4 linked regions of the Homo sapiens genome follow. The protein of the gene in region 2 purifies or fractionates together with the protein of the main gene of each other region. This does not show direct contact. Each region holds a gene or a part of one and is shown on either strand. Other genes may lie near its edges. The genes, in order: DHX38, PPP4R2, PTPA and TIPRL.

Evidence for each region.
Region 1: the proteins of PPP4R2 (region 2) and DHX38 purify together in Homo sapiens (affinity purification with mass spectrometry; 4 studies listed by BioGRID and IntAct, with this or other methods). This does not show direct contact.
Region 3: the proteins of PPP4R2 (region 2) and PTPA purify together in Homo sapiens (affinity purification with mass spectrometry; 3 studies listed by BioGRID and IntAct, with this or other methods). This does not show direct contact.
Region 4: the proteins of PPP4R2 (region 2) and TIPRL purify together in Homo sapiens (affinity purification with mass spectrometry; 6 studies listed by BioGRID and IntAct, with this or other methods). This does not show direct contact.

Annotation. Positions count from the first base shown.
Region 1 is NC_000016.10:72,088,977-72,096,856, reverse strand, and holds the start of DHX38 (pre-mRNA-splicing factor ATP-dependent RNA helicase PRP16), read right to left. Parts: upstream 3,011-7,880; 5' UTR 2,806-3,010; intron 2,664-2,805; exon of another isoform or gene 2,479-2,663; intron 719-2,478; 5' UTR 700-718; coding exon 377-699; intron 36-376; coding exon 1-35. Other genes in the region: TXNL4B (thioredoxin-like protein 4B), read left to right, coding at 6,108-6,239, 7,719-7,870. UniProt on the Homo sapiens protein: Probable ATP-binding RNA helicase. Involved in pre-mRNA splicing as component of the spliceosome.
Region 2 is NC_000003.12:72,991,982-72,999,820, reverse strand, and holds the start of PPP4R2 (serine/threonine-protein phosphatase 4 regulatory subunit 2), read right to left. Parts: upstream 3,011-7,839; 5' UTR 2,784-3,010; coding exon 2,750-2,783; intron 2,715-2,749; exon of another isoform or gene 2,630-2,714; intron 1,745-2,629; coding exon 1,663-1,744; intron 1-1,662. UniProt on the Homo sapiens protein: Regulatory subunit of serine/threonine-protein phosphatase 4 (PP4). May regulate the activity of PPP4C at centrosomal microtubule organizing centers.
Region 3 is NC_000009.12:129,135,396-129,142,414, reverse strand, and holds part of PTPA (serine/threonine-protein phosphatase 2A activator), read right to left. Parts: intron 5,945-7,019; coding exon 5,820-5,944; intron 4,824-5,819; coding exon 4,723-4,823; intron 1-4,722. UniProt on the Homo sapiens protein: PPIases accelerate the folding of proteins. It catalyzes the cis-trans isomerization of proline imidic peptide bonds in oligopeptides. Acts as a regulatory subunit for serine/threonine-protein phosphatase 2A (PP2A).
Region 4 is NC_000001.11:168,188,946-168,195,964, reverse strand, and holds part of TIPRL (TIP41-like protein), read right to left. Parts: intron 4,597-7,019; coding exon 4,465-4,596; intron 3,758-4,464; coding exon of another isoform or gene 3,737-3,757; exon of another isoform or gene 3,570-3,736; intron 1-3,569. UniProt on the Homo sapiens protein: May be a allosteric regulator of serine/threonine-protein phosphatase 2A (PP2A). Isoform 1 inhibits catalytic activity of the PP2A(D) core complex in vitro. The PP2A(C):TIPRL complex does not show phosphatase activity.

The sequences.
Region 1 (7,880 bases), on a different chromosome or scaffold from region 2:
GGGATGGAGTCTCTACCCGAGCAGACCGATAATGTCTGAAACAGGGAGAGCAACTGGTAAAGGCCCCTCCATAGGAGAAAAACTCTGCCCTAAAACCTTTGGCTGTCCAAACAAGTGATCTGTCCTTTTCCACTTTCTCTCCCTGGGACGCAGGCTCACATATGGCAACAACCCAAGGCATTTCTAACCTCTACCATCTCGTCTTTATTCACCTTTGTTTTTCCCCACAAATTCCTACCTACCTTCAGTATTACAGAATCATAATAAAATCATAAAGCTCTAAATCTCCAACAGGAAAACTGAGAGATAAACATGAGCTGTTATTTTCCAGCCTCCGTTCGCTTCCCTCTGGGCTAACCCATACTAAGGCCTTTACCTGTCTTTCCGGATATTTTGGCCAGCCTGGTCACCGCCCTCTTCCTCAGCATCCTTCTGGTCATCCTTGCTCTCTTCCCAGTCCTTGTAGGAGGAGACTTTGGACTTCTTCTTGTCCTCCCCATCGTCCTTCTCCTCTCGCTCTCTCCGTTTCAGGGAAGCCAGCAAGTCCAGTCCGAGTAATGAAGGGCGGGGAGCAGGAGCCTTGAAGACATGCTGCTCGCTGGCCGCACTTTTGGACTTGCAAATAAGACCACCAACCTGACAGTCCAGATCAGTGCCTTCCAATCGATGGATCGAGGCATCCTCACTGGTGTCCCCCATCACAGGATCTGGGATTTCTCTGGAAGGAAGGCAAACCATTTGGTACTAGAGAAGGCTCAGCTCTACTATATCCCACAATAAATGCAGTTATGGTTATATGTAGGTGATTAACCTTCCCCATCTCCCCTTAAGACCAGGACTACTTTTGCTCCCTCTCTCCAAGACCTTTCCATCAAGTCACTGCCTATCTCCAAAGATTCTCCTATTCCAACCCCCAATAAACACCAAAATAGATACACACACACACACACACACACACACACCCCATACATTCCTCCCCAGCCCCCACAAAGATCCAAGAGGCAATAAAAAGTCTCACTAAGGGACACTTTCTAGAGCCTGATGTCAGCAGCTGTAACAGGGATGTAGGGAAAACACCACTAAATTTGAATCAGAAACCTCAATTAGAAACCAGGCTCTTGACACTTTCTACCTGTATGATGGTAAGCAAATAACTTAATCTTTGTTTAGCCATAATTTCATATCTATTAAATGGAAAAAATTTTTACCTTATCTAATCCATGAAGCTATTGTGAGAATCAAACAAAAAGTGTATGTGAAACCATAAAGAGTAGCTCTTTATGTAACCATAACAGTTAACATAAATGTAACTGCTACATTGTATTATTTGCTATCCTCCTATATACTGTTGGTCCCTCACCCATTTTTTTACATGAGTTCTACCTCTTCCTCTCTTTAAACAACAGGTACAGCAGCACAGAGATGGGGCAGAAGGCTACCGTCCATGTTCTCCATACTTTAGTGGCTTTTCTTGGCCTAGCTGCGTTTTACAGAAAACAATTTACTCACAGCAGCCAAAATCAGTTTAATAACAATCCATGTTCACCAAAAATATTTATGAGAAACACCAGGTTAGGAAAAGGTGTTACTGAGAAGTATTTAAGTGGCTACAAGACTTCTGGCACTCAAGTTGGAACAAGCTCCTCTTTACCTCTCACTACACATCTGCCACTCATCAACATATATCAGTTCTGGATGCTTGGATAATTCCTCTCATTCCAACAAGTTAGCAAAGCAAAGGAGATGCCACCAGAATCCAGAATTGTTTACCAAACTCTAATTAAATGCACAGCTCTACAGAGTATTGCCAAACAGACTGGACACATAATATTAATGCAGAAACAAGAGTTACATTTTGAAAATGCCATCAGGCAGAACAGAAAAAAAGAAAGCTGCATATTGGTGACATCTGTGCGCATGTGAGGAAATCCACACAAGAAGGTAAAGATATACAGGCTCTACTCAATAGTTGTCTAAACTAGGAAAGGTACCCTGGACTGCCATTCTACGCAGTTGAGAGAACACTGGATGTGTTGTTGACTGCTGTAGCTCAATGTCTAGCAAAATAAGCGTTTGATAAATTAAAAAATGAATTAATTTAAACTTATTAAAGGAGGACAGGAACCCAAACATTTCTGGAGACAGCAAGGGAAGATTCCAGCAACACAGGACAAGGAGACAGCCAGAGAGAACTTCATTAGCTGCTGAGACGAACAAATAAGGAGCTAAAGAGCAAGATTCTTGAGAAGGATTAATGGCAAAGAAACTACAAGGCGTACGAGAAAGCCAGGGAAGAAAGAACCTGGATTCATTCATTCAACAATTATTCACTGAGGGTGTCCCTGAGCCAATTGCTGTTCTCGGCGATAGCAACAGAGAACAAGACAAAAATCCCCGCCCACCTGGAGCTGACATTCTAGTAGAAGAGATCGCCCACCAGATTGCCTGGTATAAATGACACTGTGAGAGAGCAGAGGAAGACACAAGGAGTCCTACTCGGGCTCGGTGACAGTCTGGGGTGGGTTAAAGCGGAGGCCTGGGAGAGGGACCAAGGCCACTCCAGGCAGCATCCCTGGATCTCAGCGAGGCCGCTCCAGGCAGCAGGATTTGACCAGAGCAAGGAGGAAGGCCAAGGCGGCCAGGACGGATGCAGCATCCCTGAGGTGAGTAAGGCAAGGTGGGTGACAGGGACGACAGAGGAACTCCCCAAACTGGGGCCCGGACCTGAGCAGGGGACCAATATCCGCCGCCTAGAGCCGCCATGATTACAGAAGGGCAGGCCAGGAAGGAAGAAGGGACTCTCACCTCACCAAGCGCGACTCTTGGGACCCTTCTGTCCCGGATTCTGGGGCGCCGGCGCTGCCACCCCTCGCTCAGACAGGCTCAAGGAGCCAAAATCCACACCTTGAAAGCGGCCATTATTGTCCCTTAATACTTTGCGCGCCCCCTCTATCCGCCCAAAGCTACCATAGAGAGCAGCCTGGAACACGCCCGATTCCTGGATCCAAGTGTGGAACGGTACGCCAACAGGCTCTCAAGGCCTCCTCTGGGGCTCTGATCAGACACTTCCGAGTCTCCTTGTGACCAATCACTCTTAGCCTAAGAGACTACATCCCGCCTCTAGTCTGGGGGCAGGAAAAGGAGGGGAAAAAGGTCGACCATCTTTAATACGGGCGGAGGTGACGCCTAGCTTCCGGTCAGAGCCGAGCAAGGTGGGCGGTGACTAGAAGCTCTTCCGTTTATTGGGCTGTTGAGCGGGGGCCGACCGACGGCCAGGAGTTTCTTTTCTGCGCTTGTGCGTTTTCTGTTCGGTTTCCTTCCCGCTAGCGGGGCCACGAGGGTTGCTAGGCAACAGCCCCTGGGTGACTTGGTCTTAGGGTCCTGTCCGGCTTGGGGCTGATGAAAGGAGCTGTCCGCGCCCGGGCTCTTCCGAGAAGTGGTTGCTGACAGCCACAAAGTGAAAGGGAGTGAGGCGGCGTGGACGAGTAAGGTAAGTGCTGGGGTCCCTTAGCGCTTGTGGGCCAGGAGCAGCGCAACACAGGTGACTTTAAATATGTATATCGGATATTTTGGAAAATGGAGATGCGCGCCCGGCTGTAAATAAAAATCACCCATGCGTTCACACGCAGAGATGACCACTGATTTCCAGTTGTTTTTCTGGAATACATTGTAGTAAGATTCTGTACAAAAGTGAGTTCAAGCTTTTTTTCTTTTTTTGGTGTTTCTGCAGTTGTGGCGCGCGCCTGAGGTTCCAGCTACTCGGGAGGCTGAGGCGGGAGGATTGCTTGAGCCTGGGGAGTTGAGACCAGCCTGGGCAACATAGCGAAACCCCGCCTCAGAAAAAGAGAGGGAGAGAGGAAAGCAGTGGAGTTATTGGTCAAAGAGTATGTCAGTTTTCTTTCCAGAAAGGTTTTGTGTCTGCATTCCAGCAGGAACTCCCTGTGCCTGCCCCTACCACTATCTTGTTTAATTTTTGCCAATTCAGTGACTTTGTAAACATATGTTTTAATTTGCTTTTCTTTGCTTACTGGTAAAGCTTAACTTTTTAGTTTATTTACTGTCCATTTGTACGTCTTCTTTTGGGAATTCTCTGTGGGTATCATTTACTATGGACATTTTCTTAGATGTGGTCTCAGTTTTCCTCTCCTGCTTCCAACGTTTGTCCAGTTGCACCCCTAGCCTCACCACTAACAACTTTGTTCTCCCCTTACTTTCTCCTTTCGATCAGTAACACGGAGGAACTGCTGTTTGTTTGAATTCTAGTGGGACAGATCCGTCTTCTCTTTGACCTTCCCTTTCATTGGTAATTTGTTCTGCTGCTCACATCTGATGACGTCCCTTTGGGCCATCAATGTCCCTGTTTAAAGTATGACCTATAGCTGGAACAATCTTATTTCCTATGTGAATTTTAGTTAAATAATTCCTTTTTTTTTTTTTGGAGACGGAGCTTCGCTCTTGTTGCCTTGCCCAGGCTGGAGTGCAGTGGAGCGATCCTAGCTCACTGCAACCTCCGCCTCCAGGGTTCAAGCAATTCTCCTGCCTCAGCCTCCTGAGTAGCTTGGATTACAGGTGGCATCTGCCACCACGCCCGGCTAATTTTTTGTATTTTTAGTAGAGACGGGGTTTCACCATGTTGGCCAGGCTGGTCTCGAATTCCTGGCCATAGGTGATCCACCCTCCTTGGCCTCCCAAAGTGCTGGGATTACAGGGGTGAGCCTGGCCTAATTCGTATCTTAAAATGTGACTTGTGACAAAAAAAATAGGAAAAGAAATCCTCCCTTTTCATATTTGGAACTGAATTCAAAATACCGACCATCTCAATGGAGTCTCTTATAGATGACCACAAAACTAAGCTTCTTTGTCAAAGAGTTTCTCAAAAATGAAATTTCTACCAATCATGAAAATAGATTATTGTAGTAGAAGGACCCCTGGACTAGAAATTTGGTGGCCTGTATTCTAGTCCTTGTCATTGTAGTAGAAAGTGCAACTGTAAGCAAGCTAGTTTGTAAAATGACGGGGTTGTATTAGGTCCCTTGTACCTCAGTATTTTATTATTTGTTTATGGTATTGTAGTTTTCACACACACTCTTAATTGATCTGTTTGCCGTGTAATGAGGTGCACCTAGTAAGGTGCACACGAAGAATCTTTAAGCCAGGACTTGTAATAATATAAAGTATACAATAAAGGACTGTTTAAAAAGTGTAACACATGCAAGAAATAATATGCTGCCATGACAGAGAATATGGATGTTCTCTATATAGAGATATGGGGCAATCTTCATAGGTTAGGTTTGAAATAATGAAAAGTGCTGAAGAGTAGATAAAGTGTGTGTGCTGAACATCTGCCATTGGTCCCTCCACAGCCATTCTTCATCCTCCTCTAGACTGCTCTGGGACAGGGAGGTTTGCCTGCCTCAACAGGCCCCTGCCCTCTGGTTCCAGTTGGAGTCAGCCGGTGGTTGCATGAGCAAAGGTCAGAGGGAGGGAGGAGAGTGGCTGCAACACCTAACAGCAGGCTGCCCTCCTATACACTGTCCTCTCCACTCACCTCTTTCTGCCACACAATTCTTATAACTGCTTCCTACCGTGGCTTCTTCCTCCCATGGCCTAGGGATGGGTACAGCATCCCGCTGTTACTAGCCCCAAAGTAGTACACTTTACCGTATTGTTTTTCTACACCTGCCTTAATTAAACTGCCTTCAAATTACCAAAGTTGAGAGTGTCATCGCTTTCCTGCTGGAACACTGATACAATAGGCTATCTTTTGGGGGTGGGGAGAGAGAGAAAAAAAATATCGGAACGCATATTTGTATTTTTTGGTGAATGCATAACAAAACTCTGAAAGATACATGAGAAACTAATGAAAGCAGTTATCTGGCCCGGGGGAGGGAACAATGAAAACTGGTTCCAAGGAGCAGGGACAAAGAGAGGGAAACTCCACAGTGTTACCTTTCTATGATGTTTCTTTCATACCATGTGAATACATTAGCTACTCTGTGAATTAATTTTTTTTAATGAGGGCTCACGCACTTAATCTAAACTGTCTTTAAACATTGCACCTTTATTTCAGGAGTGACAGTGAGGATTCACATTTGGGTTATTTCAAGATGAGCTTCCTACTGCCCAAGCTGACTAGCAAAAAGGAAGTAGACCAGGCGATAAAAAGTACTGCTGAGAAGGTGTTGGTTCTCAGGTTTGGGAGAGATGAAGATCCTGTCTGTCTGCAGCTAGATGATATTGTAAGTGAATGTCTAAAATAATTGGTTTTTATTAATAATCTGTATATTCTCACTTCAGCATCTGAGTAGTACATGAGAGGGAGTAGTCAGGGTTGGGTATATAGCTGTTCATTTGTTAGTTCACTAAGAGCTGATTGTGTGCCTGCCCTGAACCAAGCCCCCAAATCTGTGTGTGCTGAATCTGTCTTGGATGTCCTTACCCACTAGAAGCTGTCAATGCTGTTTCACCAACAAGGTGATGGAAGAGCAGAAAACTATTAACAAGCATCTGTGAACACTATCTTTTCAGTGCTCGCAATAGTGGGATAATAGTAGCCCCATTTCCCAGTAGGAAAAAAAAAACCAGAGAGGTCAAGTAATTTCCCACAGGTGCAGATCCACTATATTGCAGAGTTGAGATTTGAACTCAGTTTTCTGTAGCTGCAAATAATCTTTTCTAGTGTGCTGCCTCCAGTATGTGCCTGATGCAGAGAGAGACCTAACCCAGAACTAAGACCTCTTACCGCCATTTCTACTGCTACCATCCCGTGTAAGAGCTGAGCGTACAAATCCTCATTTCCGTGGTTACAATGAGGGTGTGATGTGTTAGCTTGGGGAAAAAAGGACCAGAGGATTCTACCCTCAGTCATAAGCAGGAGGAAATACCACAGAGGTCAGTGATGTAGACACTGAAGCCACACTGCCAAAGTTCAAACCCCAGCCCTACTGCTCAGGAGCTGTGTGACCTGGGGCAAATTACTTTACCTTCCTGTGCCTCAGTTTCCCTATCTATAAAATGGGGACTCTGATAGCATATACCTTATAAGAATGATGTAAGGATTAAATGAGTTAACAAATGTTAAGCACTTAGGACAGTTACCACATAGTAATGTTATATAAGTGTCTGCTACTAATTATCGTGGTTTTCATTTCTGGGAGGATTGGGAGGAAGGAGACGTTAGGGAATTTCAGTATCCACATAACATATTTCTAAGTTGTGTTGTTTTAAATGAGCATGGGCTACTTTTATAAAAGCATTCAAAGAAAGAAATTAAAGGAAGAAATAGATTCACACAGTTTTCCCCAAGGATTTGTATGCTCAGCTCTTAACACGGGATGGCAGCAGTAGAAATGGCGGGTAGAGGTCTTAGTTCTGGGTTAGGTCTCTCTCCACAATGAATAGACAGGAATACTCCCATGCTGTCACCCTCCTAAACTCACACAGTTTTCCCCAAGGTCCCCTTCTAACCTCACACAGTTTTCCCCAAGGTCCCTTCCTAACCTCATACAGTTTTCCCCAAGATTCCCTCCTAACCCCGTTGCAGTGAATGAGACTCTGGAGGATGGGGTTATGCTTTGTCTAATGTGGGAGCCACATGGGCTGCATTGTTGGCCCAGGAGTTTTTTCAAACAAAACACTCTGTTGTAGTAACAAGTTTCACAGAAGAAACATTAAGCTGCCTCTCATATTGTAACCTTTGTCTCTCTCGTCATTTGCAGCTTTCTAAGACCTCTTCTGACTTAAGTAAAATGGCTGCTATATACCTGGTAGATGTGGACCAAACTGCAGTTTATACACAGTATTTTGACATCAGTTATATTCCATCTACTGTCTTTTTCTTCAATGGGCAGCATATGAAAGTGGATTATGGGTAAGTGCAG
Region 2 (7,839 bases):
CTACACCAATCATTTCAGTACAAAACATGCTTAGTGAATACATAAACACCGAATATGGGGTGGAGGATTGGGAATTTTAAGTCCTCTTCTACCAGGATAAAATAACTGTCCAAAAAAAATCAGATAACTTCCCCAGCCACTTGGTGTTCCAGTAAGACAGGATATTAAAAAGCTATCTTTTAGAAACTTTCAATTATTTATACATTTATAGGCAATGTACTTTATCAAAAAGGGAAAGCAGTGTGTACAAACCTGATAAACTGAGTAAGACGTTTTAAGTACTCATCTCCAAATAGTTTGATATCATCTTGTATATCAAAAAACAGCCAAAAGTAAAATGCTATTTGGCTTGACATTGTTGACAGGGCTAAGTCTGTGCCGACTAGCAATTCAAGAGGAATAGTGGCAGTCTAAGCATTTATGTTTTAGGGATTAATTTATTTTTGAAAGATGGCATGTGGTCATTTTTAGGCTTATCTATATAAGCACAAATTAACAGTTTTACATTGTTCTAAATCAAGATGTTCTATATGAAACCCTAATGCGAAGGTAAAAATGACTTCCCCCGCCCAGAGGGTCCCATTTTTTAATGTAATAAATAGAAATACAACATTGAACACATCACACTGACGTTCTCAAAATGACTGGTGTATTTTAATAGAATACTAAGGAGACTCAGCTTGCAGGCATGACCATTAAATCAAGCACTGAGGCAGCAAAGGTTTTTTTCTTTCTAAAATTAGGCTAGTTGTTAAAAGGCTAGACTACAAATAAGCAAATCTTGTGAGAAATGAACACTTGCTAATAATAAAGCCAGAGAAATTATACAATTCTTGCTGAAAGCTACACTCATACTGGGCAGATAACCCACTTATTAACATTGAAACCATAGAAACCTACCCCTTTCCTGCTGCCCCAGCCCCCACCCAAAGACTACAAAAAGAAGTCATCAAAGATGCACTGTTGTCTACAAATAAACTTAGCCAGATTGTGTCTACCACACAAACTGCAAAACAATGACCTGGAATGTTCCTTCTGAACACAGCCCTAACTTTATAGCGTAAGTTTCAGATTCAGAACATTTGGAAACGAGCTGAATAAAATGCTGAGCATATGTAACAAGTCAGCTATCTTAGAAAGTCTACAAGTCAAAACTGTAGCATCTGGAATTTGTCAGATAATAACAGAGTCCTCCAGACGATAAATAGAAGTGACACTTTAAACACCTACATATGCAAATATGACCAAAAAAAGGCTGGACACACGACAATATGAGAAAATACCACCAAGACTCTGAAACAGAATCAAAGCCACAAAATTCTAGGAATAAGCCTATTTGTTATGGCCAAAAAGGGTCATAATGGAATAGGCATTCTTCCTTTCTCTGGCTCGTTAAGACTAATACATTCTCTAAGCGTGCCAAAGCCTAGCTATAAAGAAAATTTTAACATACACAGGTTTTTAAAATCCGTTACAGACCATGTATAAAGTAAGTAAGCGTATACGTTCTTTAAATGTAAATATATAAATTATTTAAATGACCAGGACTTCTACAATTTAGAATGAATTATTTAATTATCCCAAAATATACTTTTTTCCCTTTCCTGAGCAATTCTTAATAATGCACTGGTCTATAACGACAAATGCATGTTTTCAACTCACATTGTTTCTCCAGTCTTGGCTACATGACAAAGAAACTGATCCAGGACAGGACAAACTTCCTTTTTCCCCCTCTTCTCAAAATCTAGATGAAGGAAGAAAAAAAAACGTTATCAGTTTTCTCAAAAGCGCTCTAAAAACAAACTTTCCTCCTAGTCCTTTACCTTATTAAAAATCAATTAAATACAAAATTAAAAAAATAAGGCCTCTCAACCAAATTACCACCTCAATCCTCCAAGTTCTACTTCCAACATGTCACCCTCTTTACAGATAACAAGAATCCTCCTAAAGGGGGCACTCAACTTCACAAACCATTTTTAACGCAGTGCTTCTCGAAGTGTGGTCCGGGGGAACACCAGCATTATATTAAGCTGGGAATCCAGTGAAAATAAAAATCCCCAGGCCCCGACTCCCACCAATTGTTCATCTAAGTCCATAAATCTGCCTTTCTAAGAAGCACCAACTACCCCAAGTTGCCGTCCCCAAATGATTCTGAATGTCAAAGAATAATTCTCAAAACGCTGAAATCTCTCTACTCGAAGTTTGTAAGCCACTGTTCTCAAGCCTGTTGCGTGGAAGGCGTGCAATCAAGAACAGTGAAGGCAACCACCTCGAAATTAGGGCGCGGAAAGATGACTTCAAAAGCCCTGAAAAAGGCATACTGAGACAACTTAAAAGTTGCGATGCTACCCCCTACCCCCGCCCCCACCAACCGTTTACTTTTTCTCCCACCCCAACGCCTAGCGTACGGGTAGCCTGGTGGAGAAAAGAGGATATCTGGGAGGGAGGGGTCTGCGGGTCCGCCACTCGTCCCCTGAACGGGTGGGAGAAAGACTGGGGCCCCCGCAAGAGTTTCCCCGGCTCCCCTCCCCCAGCCCAGACGCCGGCGGCCGACACAAAGCCAGAGCGGGGCGGGAGAGAGCTGCCCACAGGGCTCCCCGCCCCTGGGGAGGTGGAGGGGGATGGGAGCCCGGGAAGCACTCTCCCCACGCCGCGCCCGGCCCCGGTCCTCGGAACCATCCGCCCTGAAAGGAGAGAAGAGCGAGCCGGAGAAGGTGAGGGGGAATGGAGAGGGGGCAGCTACCCCCACCTTTCAGCGCCTCCTGGAGCCTCTCGACGTCCATGGCTTCCCGGAGTCCCTCACAGCCTCCGCCTCCCTCCGCGGGTCTCTTGGGGACCGGAACGCCTCCCCCCACCCCCCCGACGCCCTCCCCCTCCCTCGCACACACTCCGGCACGCAGGCGACCGGGGGGGGGAAACGAAGGGAGCCGGGGGAAGCGTGCGAGAGAGCAAGACCGACAGAGCGAGCACCTCCCCAAGCCGCTACCACCAACCCTCCAACATGGCGCCCGGTACGTCACCGCGCGCACGCTCCCTGCCGCCGTCCTCGCTCCCGCCGCGCGCTCCGGCCCGGAACCCGAGAGCGCGTGCGCGGCCGAGGTGTGACGCTGGGGCCCAGTGGCGTCTGCGTCCCGGCGGCTTCCAGAGCCTCAGCCCCAGCCCCAGCCCCAGGCCCAGGCTCCGCGGAGCTGAAGACTGGACGGTCAGGCGAGAGGGTTGCAGGCGGACTCCTAGGCTTTGAATCCCTGCCATTTCCTCTCTGTGTGAACTTAAGCTACTTACTTCGCCTGTCTGAGCCTCATTTTCCCCATCTGTACAGTAAGGGCACTGGTACTGATGCCCTATGCAGTTGCTGTGAGAATTCAGTGTATACACTTCACGTTCAGAATGCGCCTAAAAAACGTAGAGCGAGGCCGGGCAGGGGGCTCAGGCCGGTGATCCCAACACTTTGGGAGGGAGGCCGAGGCGAGAGGATCGCTTGAGCCCAGGAGTTCGAGACCAGTCTGGGTAACAAAATGACCCCGCTCCCTCGCCCTTCTCTATATAAAAATAAATACAGGCCGGGCGCGGTGACTCAAGCCTGTAATCCCAGCACTTTGGGAGGCTGGGGCGGGCGGAGCACCTGAAGTCAGGAGTTGAAGACCAACCTGGCCAACATGGCGAAACCCCGTCTCTACTAAAAATACAAAATGTAGTCGGGCGTGGTCGCTCGTGCCTGTAATCCCAGTTACTCGGGAGGCTGAGGCACGAGAATCGCTTGAATCCAGGAGGCGGAGGTTGCAGTGAGCCGATATCGCGCCACTGCCTCCAGCCTAGGCGACAAAGCGAGACTGTTTCAAAAAAATAATAATAAAATTAACAATACATACATACACTAAGCATTGCTAATAATCCTAACAAGAATACCTCCCTGCTTAACCCAACGTTCGTTCGTCACTGGCCCACCTGTGGCAAGAAGTAATGTATACAGCAAAGTCATTAAGAGCTCAAGGTTTGGAATCAATATTCAAATCCCAACTCAACTACTTACTCCTTGTGTGGCCCTGAAGTAGTTACCTAAACTCAGGCAGCTTCAGGGTTCTTATTTATAAAATGAGGGTTGTAAAACGGCCACGAGGATTGAGTGAAATGGCAAATGTGAAACATTTGGCACAGTGCGTGAAACCTGGAACACTCAACGTGGCTGGGTTTTTATTACCACTGTTAGCATTATTACATGACATAATCTCCCAGGAGGTAGGAGAGGGCGGAAACCTCAGAAGTCCTCTGCAGCCCTGACATTTTACAAATGGGAAAGCTGTGTCACAGACAGCAAGTCTGGGGAGACAGAACTAGAACCCAGAACCCAAATCATCTGGCTCCCAGCCAGTGCGTGGACATTTTTATACTCATCTGTGAGCTTTTAAAAGAAAAGGTACTGCCCGGGCACGGTGGCTCACACCTGTATTCCCAACACTTCGGGAGTCTGAGGCAGGCGGATCACCTGAGGTCAGGAGTTTGATACCAGCCAGGCCAACATGGCAAAACCCTGTCTCTGCTAAAAATACAAAAAAAAAAAAATTAGCTGGGCTTGGTGGCGGGCACCTGTAATCGCAGCTACTCGGGAGGCTGAGGCAGGAGAATCCCTTGAACCCTGGAGGCTGAGGTTGCAGTGAGCCGAGATACTCCAGCCACTGTACTCCAGCCTGGGCACGACAGAATGGGACTCCGTCTCAAAAAAAAAAAAAAAAAAAAAAAAAAGAGAGAGAGAGAAAGAAAAGAAAAGGTACTGCGTTGTTCCACCTCCTCTTCCCAAAACCCAGCATAGCACAAAGTCATGGAAGGAAGGAGGGGAGAGAAGGACCAAGGGAGGGAAGGAAGGTTATTGTTTGGTCTAAGAAGATGCAAGTTTGGACACAGCCTTTACACTGTTGACCCTCTTAAAAGACAGTGGGTCTGACCCTGATCCTAGGTGGTAGATGTAGGCAAAAGACATTCACACCCAAAATAGCTCTCTCAAATTGTGCCATCAGAGAACCAGTCCCCTGTGTCTTTAGACCTTCGTTGTTCAGAGCATCTAGCTCAATTACAAATATCCTTGCAGAGAGAGGGAATAGGGTAGCACATCAAGCACTTGGCCAGCACTTGCCAGGCACCAGGTTTAGTTTATCCAGGTCCCTTCCAGTCTGAAAGGGCCTACTGCCTACATGGCAAAGCTTAGCCTCTCCTTCTATCTGCCACTCTACTATTCAGAAGGGTCTCTTACTGTAAGAGCTCTGCTGTACAGTAGATATTAGCCATGTGTGAATATTGAAATTTAAATTAATTAAAATTAAATAAAATTTAAAATTCAGTTCCTGAGTTCTTCAATAAAAATCCAATTCTTTTTTTTTTCTTTTTTCTTTTCCTTTTTTTTTTTTTGAGACGGAGTCTTGCTCTGTCGTCCAGGCTGGAGTGCAGTGGCGTGATCTCAGCTCACTGCAACCTGTGCCTCCCGGGTTCAAGCAGTTCTCTGCCTCAGCCTCTCGAGTAGCTGGGATTACAGGCTCCCACCACCACGCCCAGCTAATTTTTGTATTTTTAGTAGAGACGGGGTTTCACCATATTGTCCAGGCTGGTCTTGAACTCTGGACCTTGTGATCCACCCGCCGCAGCCTCCCAAAGTGCTGGGATTACAGGTGTGAGCCACCGCCCCTGGCCTAAAAATCCAATTCTTTGGTCACACCAGCCACATTTTAAGTGCTCAGTAGCTACATGTGGCTAGTGGCTCCTGTATTGGATAGTTCAGATAAAGAAAATTTCATTATTGCAAAAAGTTCTATTGGAACTTTCTGTTGGAGAACACATTATGCTAATTTCTAACACTGTTTTGTCCCTTTCATTGCTGTCAGCTTAACTGAATTTCTTATGGTTTTTCAGATCCCACCTGGTCTTCAGATAATCAAGGCTTGTGCCCCTCTGGTTAGCTCCTCCTCTCCAATGCACTTTGCTACATTCCTCTGCAAATTCAGATCTCTACTTAAACACCACTTCCTCTGGTACACTTTCCACGATTCCCTTAGGCTGTCATTGCTGTGTGCACTTTGTCGCCCGTCATAGACCTTATCCAGTGTCTGGAAGTCAAGATTACAAGGGGAGAAGAGGCAAAAGATGAGGCTGAAAAAATAACTTCGTTTGGTTCATTCCTTCCTTCTTCCTTGAATTCTTCTCCAGCCGGCCTGTATCACAATGTCTGCAATTACTAGAGCCTCCTACTGGCTGGGCATGGTGGCTCACACCTGTAATCTCGGTACTCTGGGAAGCCAAGGCTGGAGGATCACTTGAGACCAGCCCAGCAACATGTCTCTACAAAAAATAAAAAATTACCAGGGGTAGTGGCGCACACCTGTAGTACTAGCTACTTGGGAGGCTAGGAGGATTACTTGAGCCCAGGAATTTAAGTCTGCAGTGAGCCGGGATCATGCCACTGTAATCCATCCTGGGCCACAAACATAGTGAGACCCTGACTCAAAAATAAAAAATAGAATAATAAGCCTCCTACTGATGCCGATTTCCTGGGAAGAAAACAGAATACAAATGTGGCAACCAGCCCCCACAATTACCCCTCATGATCCTCACTTGCTGAGATTCATGCCCTAGTATAATCAGGCACACCAAATCACAGCTGTCTGTGTGAAGGCACTAGGGCTTCTGCCTTGGCCTCTTGAATTGGTAAATGGGGCCTCAATGGGGGAAGCCAGCTGCCATGTCATGAGAACATTAGACAGTCTTGTGGAAAGGCCCCACAGAGAGAAGAACTGTCCTTGAAGGTGGATCCTCCAGCCTCAGGAATTCCTTCAGGTAACTGCAGCCCCAGCTGACATCTGGATCACAACCTTAGCAGACATCCCACACTAGAGCAGCCCATCTAAGTCACTTCCCAATACCTGATCCACAGAAACTGTAAAAGGTGACAATGTCTATAACTGTTCTAAGCCTCTAAATTTTAGAAACTAATGCAACAAATAAGAAATTTAATAGTAACAGCTAATATTTATTAAATACTTTCATGTGTCTGGCATTCTCCTAAGCAGTTTACAAAACTATCAAAAAGTGTCTCCTAAGCAGTTTACAAAAGTATTTAATTGAATCCTCACAAAATCCTATGAGGATCCTCCTCACTTAACAGAAAAGAAAACTGAAATATAGAGGCCCAGCACAGTGGCTCACGCCTGTAATTCCAGCACTTTGAAAGGCCGAGGCGGGTGGATCACCTGAGGTGAGAAGCTGGAGACCAGCCTGGCCAACGTGATGAAACCCCATCTCTACTAAAAATATGAAAATTAGCTGGGCGTGGTGGTGGGCGCCTGTAATCCGAGCTACTCGGGAAGCTGAGGCAGGAGAATTGCTTGAACCCAAGAGGCAGAGCTTGCAATGAGCCAAGATCACGCCACTGCACTCCAGCCTGGGTGACAAGAGCGAAACTCAAGAAAGAGAGAGAGAGAGAGAGAGAGAGAGAGAAGGGAGGGAGGGAGGGAAGGAAAGAAGGAAAAGAAAAGAAAAGAAAGAAAGAAAAAGAAAGAAAGGGAAAGAAAGAAAACGGAAATATAAAGAGGTGAAATTGCTTGCACAAAATCACACAACTACATAGGCAGGTGACTGACCCATGATTCAAACCTAGACTGGCTTCAGAGCCCCCAAACACTTTCTTGTCCTCAAGAAGTTTGCAAAATACTAGGAAAGATAAGATGTAAGTGTAGGCCCTCATGCAAGGTAGAAGGCAAAGCTGTGTATCAGATATTCAGAGGCCTGCAAAATTTCTTCCAGGAAGAGATGGAAGGGTCTCACTTAAAGACTGGAAAAGATTTGTACGGACAGAGA
Region 3 (7,019 bases), on a different chromosome or scaffold from region 2:
CAGGTTCTGGCTGGGAGCTCATCCCTCCTCCCCTGCAGCAAAGTCACACCCATGCATGCACACACACACACACACAAACGCACACGCACACAATGCACGCGCAGACACTTGGGGACCAAGCTATAGCATCTGCCTGAGGGGCAAACATACAAACAGGCACATGCAAGTGCCAGAGACAAGGTTCCCCTTTGGCCCTCAAGGCCTGCTAGGAAAATATAACATTCCTTGCCCACCTACCCGCAGTCACCCCTCTTTCTCCCACAGCCAAAAAAAGGGGGCCTGATTCCTATCGCCCACCAAATCCAGCAGCCTCAGGAAGATAAGATCTCCACCTGAGCTTCTGGTGTCGTTCCCACCGACTCCCCAGGAGCCTCAGAGCGCCTCTCCAGCACAGGGATTCACTTGGGTTCAGATAAATAGCAGCAGCAGCTAGGCCCCACCCCTCCAGGCCCACCCCCTCTCCCCCAGGCCCCCCCACAGGACACGTGGTCTGCACCTGCCACCAGCAGAGCTAGAAGAGATGAGGAAAGGGTCAATTTGCAAGAGGACCAAGGTGGGTATGACCAAACCCAGGTATCCGACAGCCCTCTGCCTGCCATGCAGGCAGGGAAGAGAGGGCCGATGGGAGGCAGGGGTGCCTGAAGCAGCAGCCAGCCTGGCCTGGCCAGGAGGTGGGGAAGGGGTGGCCGCCACAGCAGCTGAAAGAGGCAGGCACAAGGACGGCTCCATTCCTGGTCCTCCCTCTTGCCAAAGAGTCTGACCCTCCAGGACGGAAGAGAAAGATTCTGCAGCCAGCATGAAGTTCCCATGACGTCAGAAACCACAGAGGGACGCCTGTGTGCCTGAGCATATCCCCCTGACACCGCAAGTCCAGCACATTTGTATTTATTAACCAAGCAGTTCATAATTCCCCTCGACACAGCCCCCCAGCTCATAGGCAGCATTTACAGGGGAACAGGGCTCTGTACCCCAGACCCATGCTGCAGAAGGAAGACTCTGCAAAGAGGCTGAATCTGGCAAAGAAACAGAGACTTGGAAGGTTCTAGAAACATGCGGGTGTCAGGGGAGACTGGGTTATTTTTTGAAGGAGAAAAGATAAGCCAGAAACGCTCTCCAAAAAGGGGCATCAGTTCACCACAAGAGCCCTCAGGAGCCCCCACTCTTGAGCCATGGGCTGCCACCTGGTGACCCACTCCTGGCAGGCCTCTTACTTCTCTAGTAAGGGCAACTGTGACAAAACTTTTAAGATTTAAGTCAAAAAAAACCTGTCATTTTATCCCCCTCATTTCCCTCCCCTGGCCCAGGTTCCCAAAAAGCCCATCCAAACACCCATGTTCAGGAGCAAGGACAACAGGCTCCTCCCTCCCCTCCTCTTCTCTCCCAGGCTCCACCACAGCCAGGCAAGAGCCCGAGGCACCCAACAGAGACAAAGCCCACTCTGGTCCCTGGGGGCCTTGTCTTGGACCACTCGCTTCACTCAGAATCACCCCAGGCTCTCTCCTCCAGGAGGGCAGCCAGGCACCCCGAGCCTACAGGGGCCTCACCTCTGGGGAGCTTTGTTTCAACTGCCCTGCTCAACCACACTCCACCCCCAGCCCCTCCCCCACCTCCCCACCCTACCCCACCCCTTCCCCAGTCTGCAGGCTCCAGCCCTGTGCACACTTCCAGGCCCAGGAAAGCTCAGGGAGCATGGAGCTGTGTAACCAGTTTCACTCTCTGGACAGGGCCCTCTGAGCAAGCAACCAGGAGGCACCCTGTCGGCTTTGTCGGCTTTGTCTGCCAGGGGCCTGCCCGGCAAGGGCTCCGAGGCAAAGGCAGGCAGATGGGCACTGGAAGACAAGAGCCCCTGCCTCCTGGCCAGCCTCGCCTACCAGGGCCAAAGAACAGATCCTCAAAAGGCCTCTGGCAGAGCCAGGGCTAGGCCCATGTCCTGGAGCTCCAGTGGCCCTGGGCCCCTACACACAGAAAGGCCAGAGAGGTAGTTTCTTTGGAGGGGCTGCAGGCTGCCCCCAGGCCTTCAGTACCCCAGGGTCTCCCTAAGTCCTTCAGGGAGGTTACAGTCCTTTGCCTGTAACTCTGGCAAAGGAAAACAGACGAGTGGGAGAAAAAGGAATCGGGGCTGGAAGACAAAGAAAAAATTAGCTCATTCTAGCCACAAAGGGAGAAGAGAAAGAACCAGAATGAGCGAGCGAGCTGCAGCCCGCAGTGACCCCAGGGGAATCGTGTGAGTCAGAGCAGCCATATTGAGCAGGAAATTACTCACAGACGCTGCGTTCCTGCCTCTCCACTCCCCAGAGAATCGGCCTTTTGTAAATGGCTCCTCTGTCAGTAACTGGGGGGATGGGCGGGGGTGGGGAGGCTCTGCACAGCGCCTTCCTGTCAGCTCCTTCCCTTCCAGCTGAAATCTGATCCCTCCCTTCCCAAAACTCCAAATTTAGAAGCCAGATTGAAACTGAAATTCTTTTCCTGCCTGCCCTGGGCTCTTAAAGGCGCCAGGGCTGCATTTACAGAGGCTGTAGAGGCCCTGCAAGGTGGGGTCCCTCACCTAGGATGCCCACGGGTATCAGGGCAGTCTTGGCATGAGACCCTGAAAGGGCTGCCTGATTCCACTCCCAAGTTCTCGGTGTTTTAGTTAATCTCCCAGTTAAAAGAGCACCATGGTGAATCCAGGGTCTCCAGAGGAAACACTGCCTCCTTCCCAAGCAAGGCGTACAGAACTCCATGCAAGCCTCCAGGTCCCCAGTGAGCTAGGCCAGGCCACTCACCAACTAGGGACTGCAAAATGCTGCTCACTGCTCCGAGGTGGAAGAGGGTGGGCGCTCTGGAGAACCAACACAACGTGTGCTGCAACCAGCGGCCACGTGGCAAGATGGGCCCTTGCTGCAGCCACCCCGGCTCCTGGGCACACTCCTCCTAGGGTCTACTGTTGAACACCATGCCCAAGAGCCTAGACCCAAAGTGAAAACCCGGACCTGTGGAGAAGGTGCGGAACAGCCAACAACTCTAGGCACGCCCTCCCCTCCCTGTTCCTTCTGCTGCCTCAAATAAATGTCACCAAACCCTCTCCAAGTTCAGTGTGCCTCTCCTGCCACCTAGTGGCTACTTTGAGATTTCCTCTACTGGAGGAACTGGGTCCCAAACTTTGGAAAAGCTTTTGGGGTGTTTATACCAACAAAATCAACCAACCAACTAAAGACAAAATTTTACCATGGAATCAATTCCCAAAATCCTGGAGGCCAGGCCTGGCATGCCTCCTAGTTAGAATACCGACAGGGACCCAGAGGCCTGGCCAGCCGCCGGGGGAGCCCAAACAGCTCAGCCTTTCAGCCACACCCAAGAACTCAGTGTGGCATCTGCACCCTTCTTCCCACCCTGCTCCTCCAGCTTATCCTGAGGTCCCCCAGGGCTCCGCAGACCCCCACATTCCACTCCACAGAGAGCAGCGCGTGACTGGCTTTCAAGGCAGTGAGCCAGGCTGCCCCCAAGTCCTCCCGACCTTGGGCCTGCCACACTGCTGAGGGCAGCAGATCTCCGGGAATGAAGTGGTGGCCGCCCAGCCGTCAGTCCCGGCTCCATTTGCTGACTTGGAAAAAATGTGTCATTCCCCTCTGGCCTCTGGAGTTTGGCAGAAGCCTGAGCCGAATGTTGACCAGGAAGAGCCTGGAGCCAAGGCTGCTGGTTATAACCCAGCTTTCTCCACCTCGTCGGGGGCTCAGAATACACAGCCCGGACGGAGAGCAGCCCCCGTGGCCAGCATCCACAGGCCTGCTAGGAACCTCACTGAGGCAGCAGACATCCGTGCTGGTGTCGGGAAAGGGACTGAGGAGGGATAGAACTCTCAAACCCTCTCCAGATAGCTGAGCGAGGGCGCCCTTTGGAAACTGGGGCATGGGGATGGCAGAGAGGATGAGAAGTCCTAACACCTCCCTCAAGAGAGGTCCAGAGAGCAGAGGGTCCCCAGCTTTCCTGTGCAGTCGCCTGGCACGTGTGTTTAGATGCAGGTTCCTGGCTCTTGTCCCCTAAGATTCTGATGCAATAAGCTGGGATGGAGGGCCCAGGAATGTGCGTTTTAACAAACACACTAGGAGATCTCGCACAAGTGGTCCAGGGCCCACTGCAAGGAATCCTGCCTTGGTGAGACAATAACTTCCAGTTCCAGAACCCAGCCGTGGGGCTGGCTATCCAGTGACTGCCACCACAGGCCAGGCCTGCGCACTCCCACTCCAGCACTTTGCTCGGGCCCACGTCCTCAGGCACTGACAGAGACGTGTCCCTTCGACAGAAAAGCTGTCTGCACCAGAAGTTCGCTCCATCTCCTCTGGTGGTTTCATTTTACACATCCACAGCACATGGTTCTACAGACCCTTGTGGGGCCCCACCGAAAGATGCTGACCCTCCCCCACAAACCTCCGCCCGCCCCGACCCTTTCAGACCTGCTGCAGCAGTCACCAAGGCCAGTTAGTGACCAAGTCTTAGACCCTCATCTCAAGACTCCTGTGGTGTTCAGGAGAAACTGAAGGAGAACTGGGCGGAGGACCTGACAGTCAGCAGCGGCTCTTTCGGAAGAGGCCCAGTGGTGCTTCCTTTTCAATAACCCGCTCCGGCCGGCCCTGCCATTTTGGGCAGCAGCTCTGGCTCTTCTGATCCACTGTAAGGCCACCAGCCTTGGTTCATCTGAGCCTGGAGGCAGCCATGGGCTTCTCTCTCACCCCTCCTCCTCACCTCGGTAATAAACAGGATACACTCCAGGAACATGTAGTCCTTGTGGTTCTCATTCACGGCCTTCTCATCCACAAAGTGTCTGGGCTCCAGGTATGGGTGGTCTGGGAAAAGGAATGGGCCCCAGCATTCAGAACCAGGCCCCACGACTACCTGGGCAACCCGGCCCAGCAGTCACACCCCCCCAGGGGCCTCAGTCCTGCCCGTGGTGCCCTCAACACCTCACCTTGAAGGAGCAATAAGTAACTCTGGGTTTGTGTATTCTAATGTGCTAAGCTCTAGCTGCATGGCGTTGGACGCATGACTTCAGCCTGCCAAGGTTCAGTTTCCTCACCTGGACACTGGGGACAAGAAGAGCACCTCCTCCTAGGGGCCATGACAACAATTACCACACCTACAGCACTCAGTATGGTGCCTGGTGCAGGTGCCAGTCAGCAGAGCCGGCTTCATGCTGGCAGACCCTTCGCAGTGTCACTGAGAAGATTCGGGGAGGCAATGCACCCGAGGCCACAACTAATGGTCATTTATGAATATCAGTCTGTAGGCAGTTCATTCTTCATCAAAATAGAGATGATCACCTACGCCCATCCTGAAAACTAGCTTCAAGAGTTGGGGAGTCACCAGAGCAGGCCTCTCTGAGCCCCACAGGAAGCAGGCCCACCACCCAGCACTTGGCGGCTGCTCCCTAACGGGCCCCTTTGCACACAGCTCGATAATAACAGTGGATGACACTGGTCACCAAATCAAAAGGGTCCCTCATTTTCAACATAAAACCCCACAGCTGCTGCCAGGAGCTGGGGCGCATTTCACACCAGTCCATTATGCACCAGGCGTGCGCCCTTGCTCCAGCCCATGTCACTTCCCATTATCTTGGTGGCGCTTGGCCTCCGCCTCCTCCAGCCCACCACACGGGCTCTCACAGCAGAAGGTCGACAGTAAACAGCCTCCCTCAATAGCTGGTCTAATGCCCTGCTTTCCAAGCTGTCACTGTCTGCCCTGGGCAGGAAGAAGGGAAGGAGGGAGCGCAGGAGGGGCAGGGGAGGGCCACAGAACGCAGCCTTGGTTGGGGGTGGAGGGATAGGCACCTCCCGCTCTAGTACCTATCAGCTGCGAACTGCCCCAGATGAAGGGCAGAAACTGGAAGTCATCCAGACCCCACACTCCCTGGCTGCCGGCTGGCTCCATCCTGTATGTTTTCTGGAGTTTCCGCATAACCTCAAGGTACCTGCACAGGAGGACAGGGAAAGGGAAGGTAGCAAAAAGTAAAAAGACAGTCTCACCCTTTCGGCCACTGGGAGCACAAGGAGACCCCAAAATAACCACTGAAGAGTGTTAACTGGTCTCAATTTCAATAATGTAGCTTTATTTCCCCCAACAAACACTCAGCCATCTTTTGGCTCAGGAAAGGCATAAAAATCACTGATTAAGGGCCCGGGCACGGTGGCTCACGCCTGTAATCCCAGCACTTTGGGAGGCCGAGGCAGGCGGATCACAAGGTCAGGAGATCGAGACCATCCTGGCCAACACGGTGAAACCCCGTCTCTACTAAAAATCCAAAAAATCAGCCAGGTGTGGTGGTGGGCGCCTGTGGTCCCAGCTACTCTGGAGGCTGAGGCAGGAGAATGGCATGAACCCAGGAGGCAGAGCTTGCAGTGAGCCGAGATCTCTCCACTGCACTCCAGCCTGGGCGACAGAGCAAGACCCTGTCTCAAAAAAAATAAACAAATAAATAAATAAAAAATCACTGATTAGGAAGGTGGGTTTTGGTGCCATCAACTCCTGACAACTTGTAAAACCCTGGGCAGGGCCTCAGCCTCTCCAGCCTCAGTTGGCCTGTCTGAAAGCTAACACAAGTCCCAGCAGGTTATCTCCTAGGTTCTTCTGGTTCCAACCTTCTATATTATCAGAGGCTGCATATCAACCACCTGTGAAGCATCGAGCACTGCTCCTGGGCTCCGTCACAGGCCTGCTGCAGCAGCACTGCTAGACTGGGGCCCGCAATGGGGATTTTAAGAGCTCTGGGTAACTGATCCACATCAGTGCTGCCCAGCGACTGGCTTGGGTGGTGTGGGGCAGCAGGTCAGAGTCTGACTACCTGGGTTCAGCTGGCGTGAACCCAGTGAAGACACCGGATATCTCTGTGCCTCAGTTTCCTCATATGTAAAATGGAAATAACAGTTGCTATTTCATAGGGTTGTTGTTAGAATTAATGAGTTATACATAAAGTGCTTAGAATTCTTCCTCCATATGGTCAACACTGTGTCAATACTGGCAGACATTATGTGACAATTCTTTTTTTT
Region 4 (7,019 bases), on a different chromosome or scaffold from region 2:
CAGTGGAGAAAGTATGAAGGTGGGTCCTGGTGGCGGGGAGAGAGCGGTTGAATGGAATGTGAGGTATTTGGGTCTTTAAAATGAATATGTTTAGCTGGCATGGTGGCTCACACCTATAATCACAGCAGTTTGGAAGGTTGAGGTGGAAAGATCACTTGAGCCCAGGAGTTCAAGACCAGCCTGGGCAACAGAGTCAGACCCCATCTCTACAAAAAATACAAAAAATTAGCAAAGCACGGTGGCACAAGCCTGTAGTCCTAGCTACGTGGAAGGCTAAGCTGGGAGGATGGCTTGGGCCTGGGAGATAGGCTGCAGTGAGCCATGATTGTAACACTGCACTCCAGCCTGGGCAACAGAGCAAGACCCTGTCCCAAAATTAATTAATTAATTAAAATGAATATGCTTGGCCATTTGCTGAATAAATACCTATTGTCTACTAACACCAAGTTCTTACTATAGTAAGTCTTGGATTTATATAAATGAAAAAATAGAATCCCAATGCTCAAAAAGGTTATCAGCCAGGGAAAGGTCAAACAGATGTGGTAGCTGCTATAATGGGTATGCACAAGGCTCAATAAGCATTTGAGAAAGAAGTACCTAAGTCTGCTGAAGAACATCAGATAAGACAAGGCTTGAGCTGACCACAGAAAGAACAGCTAGAGATGGGAAGGAGAATTTCAGAAAGGGGACCTGCATGTACAAAAAGTACTGAGACATGAAATAATAACATATATTCAGGGAACTGCCTATAATCTTACATATAAGCACAGGGCTACATTAATGATGAAAGAAGAAATAACAGGATAACCCAGTAATGACAGTGACTTAACTGCCTGGAGAGTCACCAGCCACAGGCCAAATTCTTTTCTGCCTTGGGACCATTACACACCCTCTTCCCTTACCTGGAGTATTCTCCCGGCTAATGTTCACTTGTCCTTCAGATTTCAGTACACATGTCACTTCCACAGAGGGGCCTTTCTTACCATTCCATACCACAATAGATTTATCTTGGTATTCTCTCTCATAGCACTCCATTACGAATTAACGGATTTGTAACTATCTTCATTTATGTTTCCACTTGACTGTAGGCTCCATGGTGGTGGAAATATCTGCTTTGTTCATCACCACATCTCTATTGCTTAGAAAAGTACCTAGCACACAGCAGGTGCTCATTAACCATTTTCCGGATAAAACTGAAGCTAGAAGGTATTAATACCTTTGCTGGAGAAAAGGCTCTGAGCCAAAGTGTATTCTGATGGGGTTATCAGCAACAGACTTAAAAAAAAGACTTTTAGTAAAGGAAAGCTGTAGAAATAACCTGACTTATGACAACTTGATGTCACAACAAATTGAGAAGCACATCATTATTATTTGACATTACTACACAGTGATATGTGTAATTTATGGAAAAACTGACTTGCAACATTTCTTCAAATTTCAAAATTAGTTACCAACAGTCACACTGGACACAACACAGGCAGTAAACTGAAATATCATTTTAGCATGGCACAGTGGAGAGAGTAGGAATTAGGAGACCAGAACTCTAGTGCCAATACAATAGCATATTTTAGGGCAGTAGTTCTTTCCTAGGGGACGTTTGGGAATTTGTGAGAGTACTTTTTCTTGTCACATCAATAAGCAACCAATATCAACAGTTAGTGAATAAGGACCAGAACGACAGATCTGGGATGCACAGGACAATCCTATACAACAAAGTCCAGTCCTGCATTCCACAAAACTTGCAGTATCTTACCAGGCATTCACAGAGGTGAAAAAGCCTACTTATAATGATCTGACTTTAGAAACTATTTCCATTTTACATAGATAATAAAAAAAAAATCACTCAATTATCCAGGAAGTCAACTATTTTCCAAATCAAGGAAAGATTATACTTTTTCTTATTTAGAACTTCACTAAGAGTTGTTCATCATTTTGGAAAATTGTGTTAAGAGTCACTGATTGATACCTTACATCTCTGTCAGCCTACATTTTTTGCTGTCACATTTACGGTGACTCAATATGCAAATATAAGTACCTGACTGCTTCATTATGTCTTTGGTGCAGTCATATTATGCATTTAAGTATTAAAATATATTTTATTCTAAACCAATTTCCTTTAATTTTATAGTTAAAATATGTTGATTGCTGCAAAGTAGGTGGATTAAATCATCTACAAATTTCACTACAGGATAGTAATATCTATGAACTAATACTTCAGCTTAAAGTAGTTGGTTAAAAAAATGCTCTTCAGTTTAAGACTTACTATGTATTCTTGTACACACATATTTATACACATATCCTTTCAAGCAACTCCATCCACAAAACCACATGTGCTTTCCAAATACCGACCCACTTATAGACATGATATATATACCCCCTTGGATACAAATGCACACCCAGGTATGCAAACTCATAATGAACATTTAGCATAGTCAATTCAACAGGTGGTAGACAAGTGGAAAGATACAAGACTAGGTGAACTGAAGAGAGAATAAATCTAAACAAAAAAAAGTGAATTTAGAGTTATAAGTGAGCAAAGAAGTAAAGCCTATGAAAACAACTATCTAATGCTAGAATAATGATATATATTAGATGATACAAAGAAAACTTTGCAATTAGTTTCATGACCTTAAGCTATCTTTTTAGGCCTTATCTATAAAATATGGAGGCTACAAAAAATGATTCTCTAAAAATTCACTACAATTTCAAAATCCTTTGATTCCACCGAAAAAACTAATTTTATTTTTAGATAAGAAAAATAAAATTTTTTATTTATCTAAAAATAAAATTATTTTGTCTCCCAAGCTGGGGTGCAGTGGCACCATCATAGCTCACTGTAGCCTTGACCTCCTGGGCTCAAGCAATCCTCCTGCTTCTGCCTCCCAAGTAGCTAAAATTTGACTTTAAAACAAATCTGTTGCTGCTTTTGTATTATTTTCATTCTTTAAATCACAGCATCCACAATCATTATGCCCCAAGAACAATGTTTGATGTTAGGGTCTCTGTCTTTGACAGATCTCATGACAAATGCTATAATTGAGAGGTTTTTTGTTTGTTTTGTTTGTTTGTTTGTTTGTTTTGAGACGGAGTCTCGCTTGTTGCCCAGGCTGGAGTGCAGTGGCACGATCTCGGCTCACTGCAAGCTCTGCCTTCCGGGTTCACGCCATTCTCCTGCCTCAGCCTCCCGGGTAGCTGGGACTACAGGCGCCCGCCACTGCGCCCAGCTAATTTTTTGTATTTTTAGTAGAGACGGGGTTTCACCATGGTCTCGATCTCCTGACCTCGTGATCCGCCCGCCTCGGCCTCCCAAAGTGCTGGGATTACAGGCATGGGCCACCGCGCCCGGCCTAATTGAGAGGTTTTTAAAAAGGAGTATAGAAAAGAGATATTTAACTCTGTGTAACGGAGTTGTGAAGGGCCTTGTAGAAAAGGTGGTATTTTAGCTGGGTCTTTGGGTCTTAAAGAATGAGGCATTTAGTAAAAAGTTTCAGTTGAGTTATTTCTGGAAAGTATTAGAGACCCAATTATAATGCAGTGGTAAAGAAATATGAATAACCATACTTGTTATGTGTGTTTTCTACTTCTTTTATTTTATTTTATTTTTTTTTTTTGAGACGGAGTCTTGCTCTGTCGCCCAGGCTGGAGGGCTGGAGTGCAGTGGTGCGATCTCAGCTCACTGCAAGCTCCGCCTCCCGGGTTCACGCTTCTCCTGCCTCAGCCTCCCGAGTAGCTGGGACTACAGGTGCCCGCCACCAGGCTGAAAATTGAAGTGGTAGTTGAATGATGCACTGAAATCATAACACATGGATCATTTTAAAAAATGACATCCACCTTGCCGTCTGCAGATCCTATCAACATCATTTTTAATCCAAAATGTGAAAATTAAGCCACAGTCTTCATTAGAGTTAAATAATAAACAAATAAACTACAAGGTGGCCAGGCAGGTCTATTAAAAATGCTTTGCTAAAATAAAGCCTTAAGAATACACAAATATTTTGTGAATTTTATAATGGATATTCAATAAGATACACTCTAGATTCAAGTGAAATTGTACATGACATCATGTTAAAGCTCAGTGTTATTCTTTTTTTTTTTTTTTTTTTTTTGCTCTGTCGCCCAGGCTGGAGTGCAGTGGCGTGATCCTGGCTCACTGCAAGCTCCGCCTCTTGGGTTCACGCTACTCTCCTGCCTCAGCCTCCCGAGTAGCTGGGACTACAGGCGCCCGCCACCATGCCCAGCTAACTTTTTGTGTTTTTAGTAGAGACGGGGTTTCACTGTGTTAGCCAGGATGGTCTCGGTCTCCTGACCTGGCGATCCAGCCCGCCTCAGCCTCTCAAAGTGCTGGGATTACAGGCGTGAGCCACCGCGCCCGGCCAGGCTCAGTGTTATTCAAAGTGAGTCATATTTTTGTCTGATGTTAAGAATGCAAGAAAAATATTAATTTTAAATAAAAATAATACTCACAATCTTCACACTCAGGCTTGAAACTCCATGATCATGAAGTTCATCCTCAAAAAGGAGAACTTCTTCAAAAAACTTAATCTGTTCTCTGGCTTTCAATTTTTCTGTATCTATATGATCTGTTGTAGGTACAACCTGAAAGAAAAAATTTTAAAGAGGAGCACATTAAAAAAAAAGTTGAGGAGCTACAGAGACACAGGAAAGCAGTCTTTTCTTTTCTTTTTCAATCAGTCTTTTCTACATAGCCAGAGCACACAGTTCTAAATTTGGGTGTCATTAGTAGATATAAAAGATCAGAATATGGCTTGATTCTGAAAACTGAAGACATTACAGATGCCCAATATTATAGCTTCACAAAAAAAGCAGTAAAAATTTATCATTTTTCATGCAAGTCATATTAAAATCAACTTCTGTTGTGACTATGAGAAAATTAATCAACTAAACATCAGTCAGTGTGATGAACGACTGCTATCATAGAAGGTCATAGAACATTTGTGCTGTGAAAGCCACTTTTAGGACATTCATATGGAACTTAAAAAATATTTTTCCATTAGAATGTTAGATATTTGCTCAACCTAACTCCCCAAAACCTACAACAAAATAAAGTGCTTTAAATAATGAGGTAAACAAGAACTTGTAGAGAAATTCTGAGGGAAACTCTTAGCATTGCAAAGAGCTTTGAATGAAGTTGGCAATTTTTCAAGGTATTATTTTGTAGCTCTAAGACATGCACACACGTAATCCAACAAAAGCATCAACAGTCCCAAGGCAGATCATATCAGGAGCTCATTAAACTCAAGTGTCTCCTGAGCAGCACCCAAGTATGAATTGTGATACTATTTTCTACCACACCTAATTTCACTACAAAATGCTCAGCTGTTTTACTCCTTGACAGGTTTACCATAAACAAACACAACAATGCTTGTCAAACCATAGATATTTAGTAAATGTAGCTTTACTTAAGCGTCATGATTAGGTGATTTGTTTTGACTCATGGACAAAATTAGCAGATGGAGAGTAATTTGAGATAACTAGATAAGAATCAGAAGAAAATTACAAAGGATGTTGTTTACAAGACTGCACAGATTTTGGGAGGAAATCTAAGGGAACGTTAAGTAATGTAGGGGGAAAAGATGCCATGAAAAGAAAGTGGCAGTTTGTATATGATTTCCAGGAGGTAAAAAAATGTCCATAATTCTTCCATGGTCACTTAGAGATAACACTTAGCCCTAAGCAGTTTTACTTCCAACTGTGTACGGAGCAGGTATAAGGCCACTCTTGAGGTGAAAACTGGGAGGGGAAGGGAGTTGGAGTGTAGGGGCAGGGCATATAACCAGTCCCCTGCATCACACATTAAGTTTATGATCTAGTTAAACAAAAGTTGGTCTGCCAACGAGGACTGCCTAAGGTTACACAACTGAAATTAGTGTTAAATACACACACTTGTAAATTTCGTCCTTTTTATTTGATTTTAGTTCAGAGGAACACATTTTTAACATCCTCCTTATAGATACTCCTGAATCCCCCAAAATTAATCATTATCTGAATTTTCTCATTAGTAAATTGCTTCATTAATGTTTCACATATGCCTTCAGTAAGTGATTGGTCAAAATGAATCTGTCAGTTTTTCCATTTACGTACTTGTTCTTATAAAATGAAAGACAAAGTCAAAAAACAAAGCATGAGTTAGAGATATCATATTTAACTTATTTATGCTATTGTCTCCATTTGCAAGGCTAAATATGTCTAAAACTTTATACTTTTCAGCTCTCTTCCTCAACTCCACATATCTCTCTCTGAACCCAGGGATCTAAAAAATACAACAAAAAAAAAATAACCAGCTAAATATAAAACATATGGGCTGGGCGCGGTGGCTTATGCCTATAATCCCAGCACTTTGGGAGGCAAGGCGGCCGGATCACTTGAGGTCAGGAGTTTGAGACCAGCCTAGCCAATATGGTGAAACCCCATCTCTACTAAAAATACAAAAACTAGCTGATCGTGGTGGCAGGCACCTGTAATCCCAGCTACTCAGGAGGCTGAGGCAGGAGAATCGCTTGAACCCGCGGGGCAGAGGTTGCAGTGAGCTGAGATCACACCATTGCACTCCAGCCTGGGCGACAAGAATGAAACTCTATCTCAAAAAAATAAAAAACATATGGAACAGTATTGGCAGAATAAGTAATCTAGACAAACCTTCTTGATGAAGACAATTTAAAAAGCTGGCTAAAAAAACCCAAAAACTTCCTAAAAGCATCAAATGGCCAAGGCAGTATGGAGTTACTGGGCTGAGATCTGGAAAGACTGGAGCCGAGAAAAGTAAGTCTGTACTTGGCTGGCTTTTGCCCTGAGGCATAGCACTGGCTGATCCAGAGAAGAAGCTGGGCTCTGCTAGCTTTTGGTGCCATCACTGCTCAGTGCTCACTAAGGACAAGGACCCTGGAGAATTTCCTGCTTCCTCCCAAATCAGAGATGACACCCTAAAGAGCTATAGTGATTTCAGAACTTTTTTTTTTTTTTCTTGAGACAGAGTCTCGCTCTGTTGCCCAGGCTGGAAT